Regions from separate parts of the Homo sapiens genome. Here region 2 is reported to be linked to region 1. Evidence: microRNA targets listed by miRTarBase, many of them from high-throughput screens and not tested one by one. Region 1 holds a microRNA gene; the other region holds the end of a gene's coding sequence.

Evidence for each region. Region 1 holds the annotated microRNA hsa-miR-4659b-3p (UUUCUUCUUAGACAUGGCAGCU, at 3,167-3,188, shown strand). A microRNA usually pairs through its seed, bases 2 to 8, with sites in the 3' UTR of a target mRNA and lowers its output. Matches are read on the target gene's strand: a 7mer-m8 pairs with bases 2 to 8, a 7mer-A1 pairs with bases 2 to 7 and ends in A, and an 8mer does both.
Region 2: miRTarBase lists HBEGF as a target of hsa-miR-4659b-3p. Seed matches in the 3' UTR shown: 8mer at 5,706-5,713, 7mer-m8 at 5,555-5,561, 7mer-m8 at 5,552-5,558, 7mer-m8 at 5,549-5,555 and 7mer-A1 at 5,512-5,518.

What each region holds. Positions count from the first base shown.
Region 1 is chr8:6,740,058-6,748,362 of GRCh38, reverse strand. It overlaps MIR4659B (microRNA 4659b), which reads left to right and starts at 3,123; the gene lies at 3,123-3,195. AGPAT5 (1-acylglycerol-3-phosphate O-acyltransferase 5) reads right to left here. Exons shown (of 8, transcript NM_018361.5): 5 at 6,612-6,702; 6 at 535-693. MIR4659A (microRNA 4659a) reads right to left here and starts at 3,199; the gene lies at 3,119-3,199. RefSeq lists enhancers at 1-38, 961-1,255, 1,857-1,906, 3,519-3,598, 3,629-3,908 and a silencer at 2,047-2,096.
Region 2 is chr5:140,328,376-140,336,680 of GRCh38, forward strand. It overlaps HBEGF (heparin binding EGF like growth factor), which reads right to left. Exons shown (of 6, transcript NM_001945.3): 4 at 7,497-7,652; 5 at 6,283-6,373; 6 at 4,468-5,905. The coding sequence ends at 6,301. Among named protein-coding and RNA genes, the nearest start is that of HBEGF, 14 kb to the right of the region's middle.

The DNA.
Region 1 (8,305 bases):
TTAGTTTAACTAAGTTATCCTGCTCACTTAAAATTCTATTTTTTTCTGGTTATATCTGACAATAGCTCAAAGGTTCTTAAAACCTAACATGTTTGGGGAAAAAAAAAGGTCACACTTAACTGCATTTCTTCTTGTCACAATGACACCCAAATTTAATAAATATTTTACGAAAAATACAGCAAAAGGGCAGCACTGACTAATAACGTGCACTCAGTACTGCCGGGCGTGCTCCTTCTTCACGTCTTCCTCCCTTTTACAGAGCTTTCCTTTTAAGTGTGAACTTTGAGTAGAAAGAGGCTGGATTAATGATAATTGGTGAGTCCACAGGACTCACACGACAGCCAAGAAATACCACACTTTGCAGGACTAATGAAATCTCCACTGTTACATCTTAATAACATCTTGAAAAATATACCGGGTAAATGTAATGAAGGAAAAAAGTACACTTAACCTACTTTGTAAAACTGAATTCTACATAAACATGTGCACTGTATATACCGTGTACAGGCATTTCAGGTGCGTGAACACACTTACCCGTCATGGTCGGTGACTCTCTTCGCTGCCCTCCATCGTCTTTCCCTTCATAAACCACCGTAACATCATAAATTGCATCTAAATAATTCTTCATGCAATCAAAAGCAACGTGAGTTGCCTTTATTCGTGGTGTTAGCACATGTTTTAATACTGCAAGGCCTAGAAGTCAATTCAGTGCCGTCATTAATTAGTTACAAAACACCTCCACAATATACTGTTTAACATCTAAATTATTTTTAAATTCCCTCAAACACACACAACAGAATCTATTAATTCCACAACCTCATATATTTAGGGCTCTAAGTTTAGAAAGCACTCTCACTTGCCTTTTTCTGTTTAAATCAATATTCATTTGCTATATATTGATCAAATATCTACATGTACAAGTCACCGTGTTGGAAGTTTATGGCCTAGCGGAAACGCTTCAATCTAGTAGACCCCGGCAAGGGTAAATATTAGTGCCCTCGCTTCTGGCCACTGAACAAAGGTGATAGCATCTTGCCCATGGTGACTCAAGATTTCCTAGAAATACAGTCACACAGCACATGGCCTCCTGTTTCTGGCTTCTTTCGCTCAGCATGGATCTGAGGTTCATCTGTGTGGCTGCAGGACTCAGTGCTTCATTCCTTTTTATGGCTGAATAGTTAGTATTCCACTGTGTGAACAGATCACATTTTGTTTACCTATTAATTGCTTCATGGACATTTGGGTTGCATCCATACTTTGGCTATTATGAATAATGCTGCTATGAACATTCATAGGAATTGCATATGAAGGCTGCAGGTGAACAAGCTTTTGTATGAACATACGATTTCAATCCTCTTGGGTATATCTGACATATTTTTAAAAGGTTCTTTAGCTGGGGGACTACTGCAATTATCCAGAACAAATCCCATTCATTAGGTTCCTACTAGGGTTAAGGATTTGTTCTTCTCTCCTTCCTATTACCTCCCTTTTCCTTGATTAAAATATTTACTGACAATTTAACAGAAAACAGTAGCTCTCAATAAGTGACATGAAAATAGACTATAAAAAACTAGTCTAGATTTTCTACTGGCCTCTCTGGAGGGAAAGTAGCTGAGTAAGGAAGAACAGCTATTACATGGTGGGACTGTCCCACACAAGAGGTTTTAAAATGCAGGGTGGTGTGGGAAAGACAAAGATTCCCACAAGCACGTATCTGACTTTAGTCCCCAGGGCAGGGGCAGTTAAATTGATTCACAAACTTGCAACAAAAATCTCAATCGCACACCAAGCTGGGAAGCATTTATTTGTCAGTTAAACTAGTTAACACTTCCTTCTTTGCTACTGGAGCTCATCCAACTTTATGAAGTCCAAAGTTTCAAAATATCACTCTGTGGTGTTCACTAAAACAACTAATTACTGGCATCCAAGTAAGTTAGTAAGGAAATAAAGACAGAAAGCTAGTATTTTTAAAACATAAAAGGAAATGAATTATCATGAATGTTTTAAAAAAATAGCTTTGTGACTAGGCTTCTGCTCCAGAACGCGTAGATAAAGCCACACCATAACTAGAAGGGGAATGGCCAAGAGGAAGACATGCAGAGCATGCCTGCGTGCACCCACCTGCCATGCAAAGATAAGTGGAAGAGCAGGAGGCAGGGAAACAAAGAGAACACGGAGCCGGGCGCGGTGGCACGTGTATGTCTGTAGTCCTAACTACTCAGGAGGACTGCTTTAGCCTGGAAGTTGGGGAGTGGGGGAGAGAAGGAAGAGAGGGAGGGAGAAGAATGCAGAAAGAAAAGAGAGAGAGGAGAGAAAGCAAGCAAGCAAGAGAGAACGAGTGAGGGAAGGAAGAAAGGGAGGGAGGGAAAGAAAAGAAGGAAGGGAGAGAGAGCGAAAGAAAGAAGGAAGAAAGAAGGGGGAGAGAGAACATGAGTTCAAATTGGGCATACTGAGGCTGAAGGAACAAAACATTCTAGAAGTAGTTGGAAATATGGTCTGTAAAATGGCAAGAATCAACCGAAGCTAAGCATGTGGAAACCATGGGAATGGATAACTGAAGTAATGGCAGTGGCTGAGAATAATAAAGGGCAGAAGATGAAAAGGCAAGAAATACAGACTCCGGAAACATCCACATTAAAAAAAAAAAGGTAAAAATAATAACAGGGAATACGACAACCCAGGAAATAAAAAAAGGGGGGAAACCAATGTAATACAAAAACAAAGGGAAGAGATGTTTAAAGGAAGAGGAGGTGATATTTATCTTCAACAAGAAAAATTATACTCCATTGTTTATTTCTACAATAAAGTTAAAATTATTTCCTGGTTATAAAGGTATAAATAATGTCAAAAGTTATGTGAAAGTTAACAAATATGACAACTGACACAAATGATACGATGCTTTGGAGGTCAGTGGTTAAGTGAGAAGTGGGATTCATTTCTGGAGAGTGGATGGAGTCAAACACAAGAAAGCAAGGGGCCCAGACTTCTCTTTGCACAGCTATAGACTTAGTTATTTCAGAATTGGAGTACATTTGCAAGCTGGGAGAAACCCCTGCAGAGAAGTAAGGCAGATGACTGAGGCAACGATGGAGACAGGGTAGACGGAATCAAGAGCTTAGAAACTGTTGACGTTGCCATGTCTAAGAAGAAAATTTTTCTCCAAAGTTTTCTTCTTAGACATGGCAGCTTCAGCAGTTTCTTCCAAAGAAATCCAAGTCAAGAGACTCCACATTAAGATTTTGAAATCAAAAGGGATATTGGGTGCACTCTTTCCAGAGAAATATAACTTTCTGAAAGCAAAAAATCCTTGAATGTGAAGAGAACAAAAATCCGTGAAAACCATGAGGTAGTCAAAAGGAGAAAAATAAAAGAACTGCTCCACACAGACTTGGCTCGGCTGAAATGAAATGGCCTGGCTTGGCTGCAGAAGGCAGTCAGCATTGATCTTACGATGTTCTCCACTGCTAAGGAAGGGAGAAAACAAACAGGGTTGCCAAGGGCTGAGGAAAGGCAGGGCAGGAACAGAACAGCCCAGCACTGGGATGGGCAGACCCCGGGGCTGGGGCAGACAAGAGCTGCAGAAGGCCCTGCAAGCTGCAGAAGGGCCAAGGAAAGAGAGATTAGAAATCAGCCAAAAACACAGGTTTAGAGCGAGTGAGGAGGAGGGAGAACCAGAGTCAGCTATATGGTGTGGGCGAGCCAGTGCCATTTCCAGATGAACTTCAAGGTGGTAAAAGCAGAGCACTGGACCCAGCACAGGACCTCGAACCAAGCACAGGATCCCAGACCAAGCACAGGACCCCGAACCAAGCACAGGACCCCGTACAGGAGAACAAGATCCCCCCAAGCCTCCACAAAGGACTGCAGCCCTGCCAACACCTTGATTTCAGCTGAGTAAGACCCATTTCAGACTTCTCAAATGTAAGAGAAGAAATCTGTGGTGTTTTAAGCCACCAAGTTTGTGGCCCTGCCTGAGAGCAGCCACAGGGAGCAAACACACCTTCTTAAGAGCGAGAGTGCCGTTACCACACAAAGCTGAGCACTAGCTTTCTTGTTTGCTATGCTTTCTCAGAAGTTGGCTTCAAAGTATTCATTTAATTTCTACTTCTTTGATTATGAGAAAGAATAAACATTTGTTCAAGTGTGTGGGTCATTTGTATCTCTTGAATTTCTTATTCATGCCCTTTTCCCATTTTTCTAGTTTATGTCTTTTCTAATTATGAAGCACTTTTGTAATATTAAGTATATTAATATCCTATATTATAAAATATTATTAGCTTGCCATTTGCCAACTAAATTTGTTCATATGATGTTTGAGACATAAAAATAATTTTTATTCAGTTAAGTCTACAAAGAAAAAAATTGCTTTGTAGCTTATTCCCTTTGTTCTCCTGTTTTGAAAGAACTCTCAAATCTCTACAATCGCCAGTGTTATTCACCCTATGAATAACATGGAAATTCTAGGTATCTGGTTTGCCATTATAGACACATCATTAAATTTCTGTTTTCTTTTAAGAGAGTTCAAAAAGCTTAAGTATGTCACCTTCGCTAGCAACTATGGTTTTAACCATGGCAATTAAAAAAAAAAAACCACCATAGGGGCTTACTTTAATGGGTCCAGGTGGCAGATTAAGATACATTTAATTCCACATCCCTTATAACCATTAGAAAGCCAAATACCTAAAACAAGTCTAAGGAAAATTAGTTAAAACAAAACCCTTCGAACAGCTGAGAAAAGTTTAAATATTACCACAGTGCCTGCACTTCTGCAGGACCCCATCTGAACAGCTTCTTCCTCCATGTCTAAGTTTCCTATAAGAGGTATGCAACTGCTATCAATTTGTTCTTTTTGTGAATAAAACTTAGGCAAAAAAACTGAATGATGGAGTTACCAAGACAAGAAATATGAGTGTATGCATGGAAGGATAAATTCTATCTTCAATATGCTGAGTTTGAGACATCCTTTTGGGCCAGTCAAGCGAAGCTCTCTAATGGACAATTGTACAAATGGGTCCAGAGTTAGGCAGAGAGACATGGAGGGGAGGAAGCTTTTGCGAGTCATCAGCAGTCAAGGAAACGATGGCTAAAGCCATGGATTTAGAGGAAGGCCACCATGAGAAACAAAAAGTGAAATTAATCAAACACCAAAACCTGACACTGGAAATAACACATGTAGCAGGGAGAAATGAAGCAGAAAGAGGCTGGAAAGGAGGCTAGGAAGTAATCGCCAGAGAGTTGGGAGGATAATGGAGAACAGCCCCACAGAAGTCTAGGGAGAGAATTTCAAATCAGACCAAAACAAATTGAGGGCAGAGTGAGTACTGGAAAAAGTGCTTACAACAAAGGTAGACTACAGATTCGAGAGTGGTTTTTGTTTTGTTCTGTTTAATAAATGTGAAAAGGGCAAAAGAGACAATGGCATTGCAAAAGAGCAACTGAAATGACAGAACGTCATGTCTATTAGACAGAGGAAGCAATGAAAGTCAAAAGAGAGCTGGCAGATGGGGAGACCAACTGAACCCTCCTATTCTGAAACACTCCTTACTTAATAGGACATGTGTTTAAAAACAAACTGGCATTTTTTAAAAGTACTGTTACAAATGATGTCATATACCTATGACATATCTGCTCTTGTAAGCACCTTGTAAAAACTCCCCCTTATTTTTAATTAAACTAAAATTAAATAAAATTAAAAATTAGTTTCATGCACTAGTCACATGTTGAATGCTCAAAAACCACATTGGTAGGAGCCAGCACACTGGACAGAACAGATGAAGAACTTTACCATTATTGCAGAAAGTTCCATTAGACAGCACTGTCATAGGCCCTGCTGTAATGTCACCAACAAGGTATTTGCTCAGTGAGTGACTATCAACATATGGAGATCACACACTAAATCACAGTCAAGCTTCAAAGACACCTCTAAGAACATAGCATAGCCACTGTTTTCTGTATACTTCCCAATTTGGTTAAATTGCATAGCTTATTGGTGTACCAATTATTCAATTTTCTAAAATATGGATATTAAGAACATTACCATTGTTGAAGACATTAACAGCTTCCAAGCACTGTGGACCAACTTTGTGTAACTTCTCCAATAGAAACTTGACATATTTTCTAATCTAATCCTCACACAGATTTAGATCTACTTATAAGGCATATGTTCTTTTAAGAGATGAAGAAGCAAGCTCAGCAACATTACACAACTTCCAAGTTGCAACCATACAGCTAATAAAAGTACGAGTTTGGACTCCAACTTAGGTCTGTCATCTTACAAAACAGAAGCTCCATTACATATAACCCATACACTGTAGAAAAAGCTTCCATCTACATAATCATGTACTTAGATAGATTTTAAATAAATCCATGGCACAAGAATATGTATCGTAACAAGCACTTCAACTTAATTTCTCAGATATATGTAATAATAGCATGAAAGTGAATTAAGGAGAAGAAACTTCATTTCCTAAGAGATAATATGTACACTAATTCAAGGAATGAATACATTCATTCCTTCAACTGTAAAACAAAAGTATCTTTTCCAGGAAGAAAAACTAAAAATGTTATTATCTTTGAAAATTATTTGTTCAAACACTCAAATTTTTACTTACCACGTTGGGCAGCAAATGCCTGACTAGCTGAAAGGACTTTTGTTTGCTCTGGATTATACCTTGTACCTTCTGGAAAAATCACAAGATACATCTGTGGGACATAGAGCAAATTTGGTTTATTTTGTGTGAGCTTTGTTTTTGTTATTGTTAACCTAAAAAAGCTAAACCTACTAATGCTAACAGAGTATTTCCTACAGTAGGAGAAAATGTATATTTATTTACATGTGACCTTCGTTTCAAGAGGGGCAAACAAAATGCAACAATTAAATATGAACATAACGTGAACTATATTTTAAATGCAGTGCTACATTCATTGGTAGGTCAGCCATGAAGAATCTAAAAACATTTCTAATTATATGCTAATAATTCACTAATTAAAAATAGGCCATGAAACGCTGACTCATACAAAGCCTCAATGAGTTTTTGCCCTTTCAGATCCTGTAATACGTCATTTTTAGAAATACAAATTTTAGAAATCAGTATCGTTAAGTACCAACACTAAAAAGTACCTCATTTGATGAAAATCATATAGTAAATTCCCACCATGTGAAACGTTCTAAATGTTCACATTCAAAAGCTTCACACAGAATTCCTATTTCACACAGCTCCTTTAGTGCATTTTAAATTTTATTTATAAGAAACCTCATTTGTTATATAAACTGAAACTAAAATAATATAAAGAAGAATATCAAGCTGGACGTTTAATAAGTAATCAATTAGTCTAAGTTTTTACGCTTATCTGCTTAGGAAAGTAAAAACAGAAACATTAAAATTATACAGCAAAAACTCCTAGCTTGAGAACTGAGTTACAAAAACTACACTAATAACTTTGATTGACAGCCAAAAGACAAAAATAAGTTATGCACACCAAATCTTTTCAAATACAAACAGAATACAGGAAACAAGACAGGAGCTCATGGGAGAAAACTACGTTTATTGGATTCATTCTTGCCAGATCTCAGACAGTACTCAGACAACACTGTCTACCTCTGTACGTCTGGTACAGAAGCCTTCCTTCATCTGGATGACCTATGATCATACAGCTCCTACTTAAAAACCTATGTGGTACTGAATTTTTTCTTTAGATACTGGTATAATGGTATCTAAAAATTTCGTACTTTCAGCTTCCACGCAAATATGCAAGCTTTTTGTTCATTCATATAATAGTCTTCAGAACCCACACCTAACTTAGAAATTAACAGATAATATTATATGTATCTTTATATTTAATAATTTATATTATTTTTAATAATTAATATTATTATTAAACAATAATTTATATGTATAATTATATTTAATAATGAAGATTCACCAGATCTGTTAAGAAAATGTAGAAAAGTGGGTACAATTAGGAAAAACATACAAAATTCCTTATTATATTATAGCAACTAGAAGGAAAAACAGGAAGACAAACATTAAAGCTAGTTCCAAACACCACACATTCATTTTCATGAAAATGTGTTTTGTAACAGTAAGGTTTATATTCAAAGCCATGAAAGCAATTACTGTGGGCTATCAGCTTTCAACTCAGTCATTTATAAATAAAACGATTATTTCTCAGGTTAATAACTCATGTGGTATTATTTGCTGTCTTAGATGTTTAATTTAAAAGAACATTGACAGACAGCAGGAAGGCATGAATTCATTCACAGCTAATTCAGAAACTATTTCTTATATACTTATTATGTTCCAGG
Region 2 (8,305 bases), not on the chromosome of region 1:
CATCCGCCTGCCTTGGCCTTCCAAAGTGCTGGGATTACAGGCATGAGCTACTGTGCCCAGGCACACATAAAATTTTTGCAACTCTTTAAGGTAAATATTTTTAGTGTCTCTATTTTATAGACAGGGAGACAGGTTCAGAGAGGTTAGGTGTCACGTGTGAGGGCACTTCCCTGATAACAGTGGGAGCTGGATTCAGCCACACGTTTAGGTCAGTCTGCATTCCTGTTTTCTTCCACTTCCCCCTGACAAGACCTCTTGGGCCACCTTTCAGGAATCTGTTAACTGGGGGCAACAGAAGAAACTCTTTTTTTTTTGAGATGGAGTCTTGCTGTGTCACCCAGACTGGATTACAGTGGTGCGATCTCGGCTCACTGCAATCTCTGCCTCCCGAATTCAAGTGATTCTCCTGCCTCAGCCTCTCAGGTACCTGGGATTACAGGAGTGCAGCACCACACACAGCTAATTTTTGTATTTTTAGTAGAGACAGGGTTTTACCATGTTGGCCAACCTGGTCTCAAACTCCTGACCTCAAATGATCTGCCCACCTCAGCCTCCCAAAGTGCTGGGATTACAGACATGACCCACTGTTCTGGCCCCAGAAACCCTTGAGCTCTAAGGAGTTGCTCTCTAAGATCTTTTTTCTTTTTTTCTTTCTTTTTTTTTTTTAAGAGATAGGGTCTTGCTCTGTTGCCTAGGCTGGAGTGCAGCAGTGTGATTATAGCTCACTGCAACCTCAAACTCCTGGGCTCAAAGGATCCTCCCACCTCAGCCTCCCAAGTAGCTAGAACTGCAGGTACATGCCACCACATCAGGCTAATGTTTACATTTTTTTTTTTCTGGTAGAGATGAGGGTCTCACTATGTTGCCCAGGCTGGCCTCGAACTCCTGGCCTCAAGTGATTATTCTGCCTCAGCCTCCCAAAGTGCTAGGAATCCAGGTGTGAGCGACTGTGTCCAGCCATTAAGTTCCTGTTAGTATTATTTCTCCATCATATTATTTCTGGATATGGGAAAAGAGAAAACAACTGTGGGACAGAGAGCTCATTTAGGAATGTAGCTTAGTGTTTACAGTGAAGGTTTGAAAATTAGGCTCCTTGAGTTTACATTCTGCCTTTACCACTTTCCTTAGGCATACATTTAACATCTCTCAATTGCTTCTCAATTTTCCTCATCTATAACACGGATACAGTAAGTTGTGTTGAGATGTAAATGAGATAGTGCCTGTAAAGTGTGCAGCCCAGTGTGCGATACATACTGAGCATTCCATGAAATGTTAAATGTTTATTAAGCGAATAATGATTATTATGAACACTATAAAAGAAAGTTTCTCAAAGGAGGCTGAAAGGGGAGCCCAGAGAGAAGAGGTAGATGCTTTTTAGTGCTCAGGGAGGGCCAGATTTCTTCTGACAGCCCGTCTTGAGAAATGGCTGCAGGTTCAGAGGCTCCTAGGGCCACTGTATAAACCAAGAAGATGCCCAGAGGAGCTCCAGAGGACCTCTGCTGAAGGGAATTCCCATGAGAAACAGGGGTAGAGGAGCGAGCAGTTGAAAGGCAGGAAGCCCTGAGCCTGCAGGAAACATTAGCTGGAGAAACAAAGTGTGCTTGGAAAAGCCCAGCTCAGGACAAGAGCTTGAGACTGAAAGCTTGGAAGCAGGAAAGGGAGCCCCAGGAGAGTTCAAAGTAACTCACTACTCCAGTTATTTCTGATGTCTTTATTATTCTCTCTGATTACCACAGATAATACATTGGTACTTCATAGAACTTTATGCAATGCAAATAGCAAAGGAGTTCCCTATTCAAGTTTTTAAATTTTTTTTTTTTTTTTTTTTTTAGACAGGGCCTCACTCTGTCACCCAGGCTGGAGTGCAGTGGTACAACACAGCTCACTGCAGCCTCAACGTCCTAGGCTGAAGTGATCCTCCTGCCTCAGCCTCCCAAGTAGCTGGGATTACAAGCACACACCATCATGCCTGGCTAATTTTTTTTTTTTTTTTTTTTTTTTTTTGAGATGGAATCTTACTCTGTTGCCCAGGCTGGAGTGCAATGGTGCGATCTCGGATCACTGCAAACTTCTGTCTCCCAGGTTCAAGAGATTCTCCTGCCTCAGCCTCCCAAGTAGCTGGGATTACAGGCGTCTGTCACCACGCCTGGCTAATTTTTGTATTTTTAGTAGAGACGGGGTTTCACTATGTTGGCCAGGCTGGTCTCAAACTCCTAACCTTAGGTGATCCACCTGCCTCGGCCTCCCAAAGTGCTGGGATTACAGGTGTGGGCCACCGCGCTTGGCCTGGCTAATTTTTTTATTTTTTGTAGAAACAGGGTTTCACCATGTTGCCCAGGCTGGCCTTGAACTCCTGGGCTCAAGTGATCCTCCTGCCTCTGCCTTCCAAAGAGCTGAGATTACAGATGTGACCCACCACAGCTGGCCCTAAAAATTCATATTTGGTGAATTTCTCAAAGTGAATACGCTCGTGTAGCCCGCATCCCAACCATGGCACAACTTATCAGAACACCAGAAGTCCCTCTCTTCCAGTCTTTACTGATCACGATGGGAGTCTTTTTCCTGATTTTTTTTCACCATAGTTTTGCCTGTTTTTAAATTTTAAGTAAATGGAATCACGCAGTATATACTTTTTTGTGAATCTGGCTTCTTTCACTGAGCAATATGTTTTGCAACTCATTCCTATTGCTATTTAGTACTTCACTGTATAGATATATCCCCAATTTATTCATTTTTATCATCAAATACTGATGGGTATTTGGATGGTTTCCAGTTTTTAGTTATTATAAATAATGCTTGGATTAATGTTGTGCATATCTTTTTTTTTTTTTTTTTTTGAGAAGGAGTCTCACTCTGTCGCCCAGGCTGGAGTGCAATGGCGCGATCTCCACTCACTGCAACCTCCACCTGCCAGGTTCAAGCAATTCTCCTGCCTCAGCCTCCAAAGTAGCTGGGACTACAGCCACATATCACCATGACTGGCTAAGTTTTTGTATTTTTAATAGAGACGGGGTCTCACCATGCTGGCCAGGCTGGTCTCGAACTCCTGACCTCATGATCCACCTGTCTCAGCCACCTAAAGTGCTGGGATTACAGGCTTGAGCCAGAGTGCCCAGCCTCTTGTGCATATCTTCTGGTGAACATATGCACTCATTTCTCTTGAATCCCCAGAAGTGGAATTACTCCTGGGGTATGCATATGTTCAGCTTCAATAGTTACTAGTGCCTAAAGTCTTGAAAGGATGTTCCAAGTATATACAAGATCTCCGTGTGGGCTCCTGGAGAAACTTCAGAATATCACAACTCTGCAAGGGAAGAGGATGAGGAAGGGGCAGCCCAGTGGCACTTGTCCAGTGCTACTGCACTGCCCCAGTCCACTTGATGGACTGTCCAATCCACCAGGACACATGACATGCCCCAAATTCCACTTTCATTTTGTCACCACCATCCACATTCCCCAACAGAGACCCCTCTCTAATCCAATCACACTTTCAGGGCAGCATTGGATTGCATGTCTGTCCACTTGCTGGCATTGGACTGAATTGTATTTCCTACATTCATTCATCCAGGTAACAAATATTGAGTGCCTACCACTCAATTGCATTGTCTTAGAATCTAGGAGAGGAGCAATGTACACACCCCTACCCTCATGGAGCTAACATTTTCATAGGAGGAGATGGACTATAAACAAATAGGAATATGTTAGTGGTGATAAAAAGCAATGTAAGAAGAGTAAGAGTAGGATGGGAGAAGGAATGTGCTGTTGTTTAATACGGTGGTCAGGGAAGGCCTGCAGAGCAGACAAGATCTGAAAGACATGATCACTCTGGCTATTACACTGGAAATATGTTATATGGAAGCAAGATGGAACTAGAAAGGCAGAGGCCATCACAAAAGTGCAGGCATGAGATGATGCGAAATTGGACTGGGTGATGGTAGTGGCAGTGATGAGAAGTGGTTGCATACAGCATGTATTCTAAAGGTAGGGCTGACAAGATTTGCTGATGGATTGGCTGTGGAGCAAGATAGGGTAGTCAAAGACATCTTGTTCTTGCCAGAAGCAATGCCTGCTCATATGTGCAGCATAGGAGTAGATCCTGAGTCCAGGGCCTGTTGACTGAATGGGTGGATATCTTCCCTGATTACAGCCAGCTAAACATGCTGTGCGAAAGATCTGTTCTTTCTTATCTCAGAGATAGCATGGTATAAGTACTAAGACAAAATAATTGGAGCCAGACTACTAGTCCCAGCTCTGTCATTTACTAGCTGTGTATCCTCAGGCAAGTTACACAACCACTTTGAGCCTCAGTTTCCCCTTCTGGAAAAATGGGACAGTAATAGTACCTGCATCGCAGAATTGTTGTGGTAGTATACATAAATAGGCCTGGTATAGAGCCTACCACCAAGTCAGGGCTTAGGAAATAACTAAGTTAAACCAGTTCCCGGTTAAAACAAACAGACAAAAGGCTATGGAATAAGGGTTATCTTTATTTGGATTGCAAAGTATAAATATGAACCAGGTTTGGAAATACAAGTTGTAACAGTTCAGAAATGGCACCAGAAACTTCCAGAAAGGACCATGACAGCATAACTTCATCGTTTTGGTGAGGTGGGTGGGATTATACAAAGCCTTCCCCACCTCCAACCTTCTCGGTAGCAATTGGCAGGTAATCAGTTACCAAGAACAGTCAGCTCCAATGTTCCCTGTTCCTTCTCAGCCTTTTGCTTTGCTAATACCTTCTCCAGACTGTCCTCTGCTGCACTGACCCCTGCATGGAGTAGCACCAGAAGAATGGCAGGAGTTAGAGAAATGTCTTGACACAAGGGAAAGTGAGTTCCCACGCTGTGGGCCTGGGGCCATGGGGGTGAGGGACCAGGAAAGCTACAGGCATGGAAGCCCAACCTCTTCTGAGACTTGGCAGGGAGAGGACACGGGGAGACACTGATATCTGTTACACTTTGACATCAGCACCTTGGGCTTTCAAAACACAAATGGTAGACAAAATCGCCTAGGCAAGACTGAAGTCCAACTCATAGAGTGGCTCTGACCAAGTTAACCCCTACATCCTGACCATACAGAGCTCCCGCAGTGGCACTCTGACCACGGAAGATCTGCAGAAATGTAGACAGACAATAAATTACTACAGATGGGTCACAGAACCATCCTAGCTTTGTGGCAAAGGTGGGTGGCACTAAGCCAGATTGTGGGGATGAGGAGTGGAGGGCCAGGAAATTGCCAAAGTAACAGTCTAGGCACTTGAAATATTATTGTTAGATTGTTAAAAACTAAATAAATTAACATACATAGAATAAAATAAATATATAATTTAAGAGGCATTTACAAACAACAACAACAAAAATAGTTGTTATTTTTCCATCTGGGTAGAAGTCCCAAAATTCAGTTCTCAGGCTTGTGGTATTTCACAGTTAACTCATCAAATCCAGCACTGGAGGGTCCCAATGGCAGATCCCTTGGTGGTACTTGAGTACATGGCTTCTCAATCTTTGTTGCTTTCTTCCAGTTCACAAATCTTTCCTTCTTGCTCTCCTTCTTCTTCTTCTTTTTTTTTTTCAGTCAAAGATCCTGGAGCATATGGAATTTAACCGGCATTCTAATCCAGAAGATAAGTGTTTAAACAAACTTATGAGGGGAAGTGGGGTTTGGTGGAGGGGAATCAGAAGGGCATGAAGGTCCCTTGCTTTTGCTTTCTTCTTACCCAGATACCATCGGACATACTCTGTTTGGCACTTGAAGGCTCTGGTATTTTGGCAAAGCAATTATGGGAGGCCCAATCCTAGACGGCAACTGGGGACGAAGGAGTCTTTGTGACTAGATGGAAGTCTTTCCCCTCTGCAGTCTGAAATCACCTTGTGTCTTCTCAGAGGTAGCAGTCCCCAGCCGATTCCTAAAGCACAAAAGGAAGGCATGTAAAGCCAGGTCCAGTCTAAAGAAGTCTTAAGATTTTCCTGGTCCAGTCTTTTTTATTTTTAAACTTTTTGAGACAGGGTTTCACTCTGTCTCCCAGGGGAGGAGAGGGGAGGGGAAGGGAGGGGATGAGGGTGGGAGAAGCTGTCCTCTCAGGCATCTCTCTTAGGTGTCTCTCTAGCAACTTTTACCTTAAGTGAAGCACTGAGTCTTTTTGAAAATAATTCTGCAATGGGATATTAATGTCACAGTAGCCTGGCCCCCAACCCCTATATGAAGAATTCAGCACCCACTGAAGCACAGCCAGGAAAGGGGACAAAGGATAATCATGTCATGGGGCAAAGGATGGAGCGTTACCTTGAGCACAAGTCTCTCTCAGTGGGAATTAGTCATGCCCAACTTCACTTTCTCTTCATTTTCCACATCATAACCTCCTCTCCTATGGTACCTGAGGAAGATAAGTTTTGTGAATAAGCCCTGCCTGCTATGACAAAGTGCAGGTCCAGAGCAGGTCCTTCCAAAGAACTCTGCCATGGTGGTTTCCTCTACTACTTGGAAAAGCCCAGGCAGTAGGGCAGCCCAAACTCTGGTCAAAGGCCCAACTGCCCCGAGGAACTCCTGTCTCTAATAGCAGGATGCAATTTACAAATAGCTTTCACCTCATTTACGTGATCCTCACAACATCCTTATGAGGTAGATGGACAAACATTACAATCACTACAAGGTTACAATCCTCAGAAAGACAGTAACTTGTTCCAGGTCTCATGACAGATGAGTTACACTGCTTGAAAACAGGCATAGAGCTAGGCACGGTGGCTCATGCCTGTAATCCCAGCACTTTGGGAGGCCGAGGCGGGCAGATCACGAGGTCAGGAGATCGAGACCATCCTGGCTAACATGGTGAAACCCCGTCTCTACTAAAAAATAGAAAAAATTAGCTGGGTGTGGTGGCGGGTGCCTGTAGTCCCAGCTACTCAGGAGGCTGAGGCAGGAGAATGGCGTGAACCCAGGAGGCGGAGTTTGCAGTGAGCCGAGATCACACCACTGCACTCCAGCCTGGGCGACAGAGCAAGACTCTGTCTCAAAAAAAAAAAAAAAAAAAGAAAGAAAGAAAACAGGCATAGAGTGCTTGGTGGGTCTCCCAAGCTAGAGCATACCTGGATTAGAAAGCAGGGCCTGAGGTCCAGACGCCTCAGAAGTGGAAGGATATACCACTAGCACCACCCACACCTTGACTACCAAACCACATACTAATGCCATCAAAGAACAGCCAGGAGAAAGAAATGTGTGACAAAGTGACTCCATGAGTGGGTAGCTGGGTCATGGAGGCAGGAAAAGAACTCCTGTGAGGAGCAGAACCTGCTATGGCCTCGCAAATTTGACCCTGGGCTCTAGACACAGGACTCATGTCATGCCAGAAATACCAGGTTTTTGGAGAATCTACACCCCGGAGCTAGCCCATGATTTGGAAAGATTGAGGGAAGTGCATGTGACCATCAAGGAGAGGGCCCAGGAGGAGGAAGAAAGGGAGTGATTTGCAGAAACAGCCTGCAGGGGACCCCAACACTCACCTAAACATGAGAAGCCCCACGATGACCAGCAGACAGACAGATGACAGCACCACAGCCACCACGGCCAGGATGGTTGTGTGGTCATAGGTATATAAGCGATTTTCCACTGGGAGGCTCAGCCCATGACACCTCTCTCCATGGTAACCCGGGTGGCAGCTAGTTCAAGACAGAACAAGAAGGAGATGGAGTTAGTGCTTTGGCCTCTCTTGGCAATGGCCCACCTGCATAAGCCAAACCCCATTCCTCATACCCTCAGCCTGTCAATCCCTGACCACGATCCCTGCCCATCCTCCATCCTTCTCCTCTAGTAGAAAACTCTTTAAAGCCCCTCTGAAAGCTCTGTAGCATTCCTCTCTCACTTGACACCCTCCCCTTTTCCATTTCCTCTGGTTCTCTGGGCTGAGAATCCTGTTCTAGGCATGGAAAAAGCAAGGGAGGACTTGAAGGCCTCAGCTAGATATGTTCCACGTGTGGCTGATTTATGACATGTGTGTTCAGGCGTTCTGTTTAAGCCACTTATGAGGGCTTGGGCACAAGAGCTGGTAGGCTAAATTGAGGGAATTCGTATCACTCCCTCCAGTGAGGCCCCTCAACATTCTGACCCAGAAATAAACCCAGCCTTCCCCATCGTGCTTCCAGCGTCCAGTCCCTCTCCACTGCTGTCCAGCCTATTAATAGGCCCTGTGCCTCTGCCAGGAGTCGTTTTTCTCAAGTTTCCTTCATTTAACTCCAGCTCCCCCTGGGTGCAGGGCCCAACTTGGGAGCTCAACTCTGGCCTTTGGCCTCTGCACGCTGAGCTACCAGGCCTC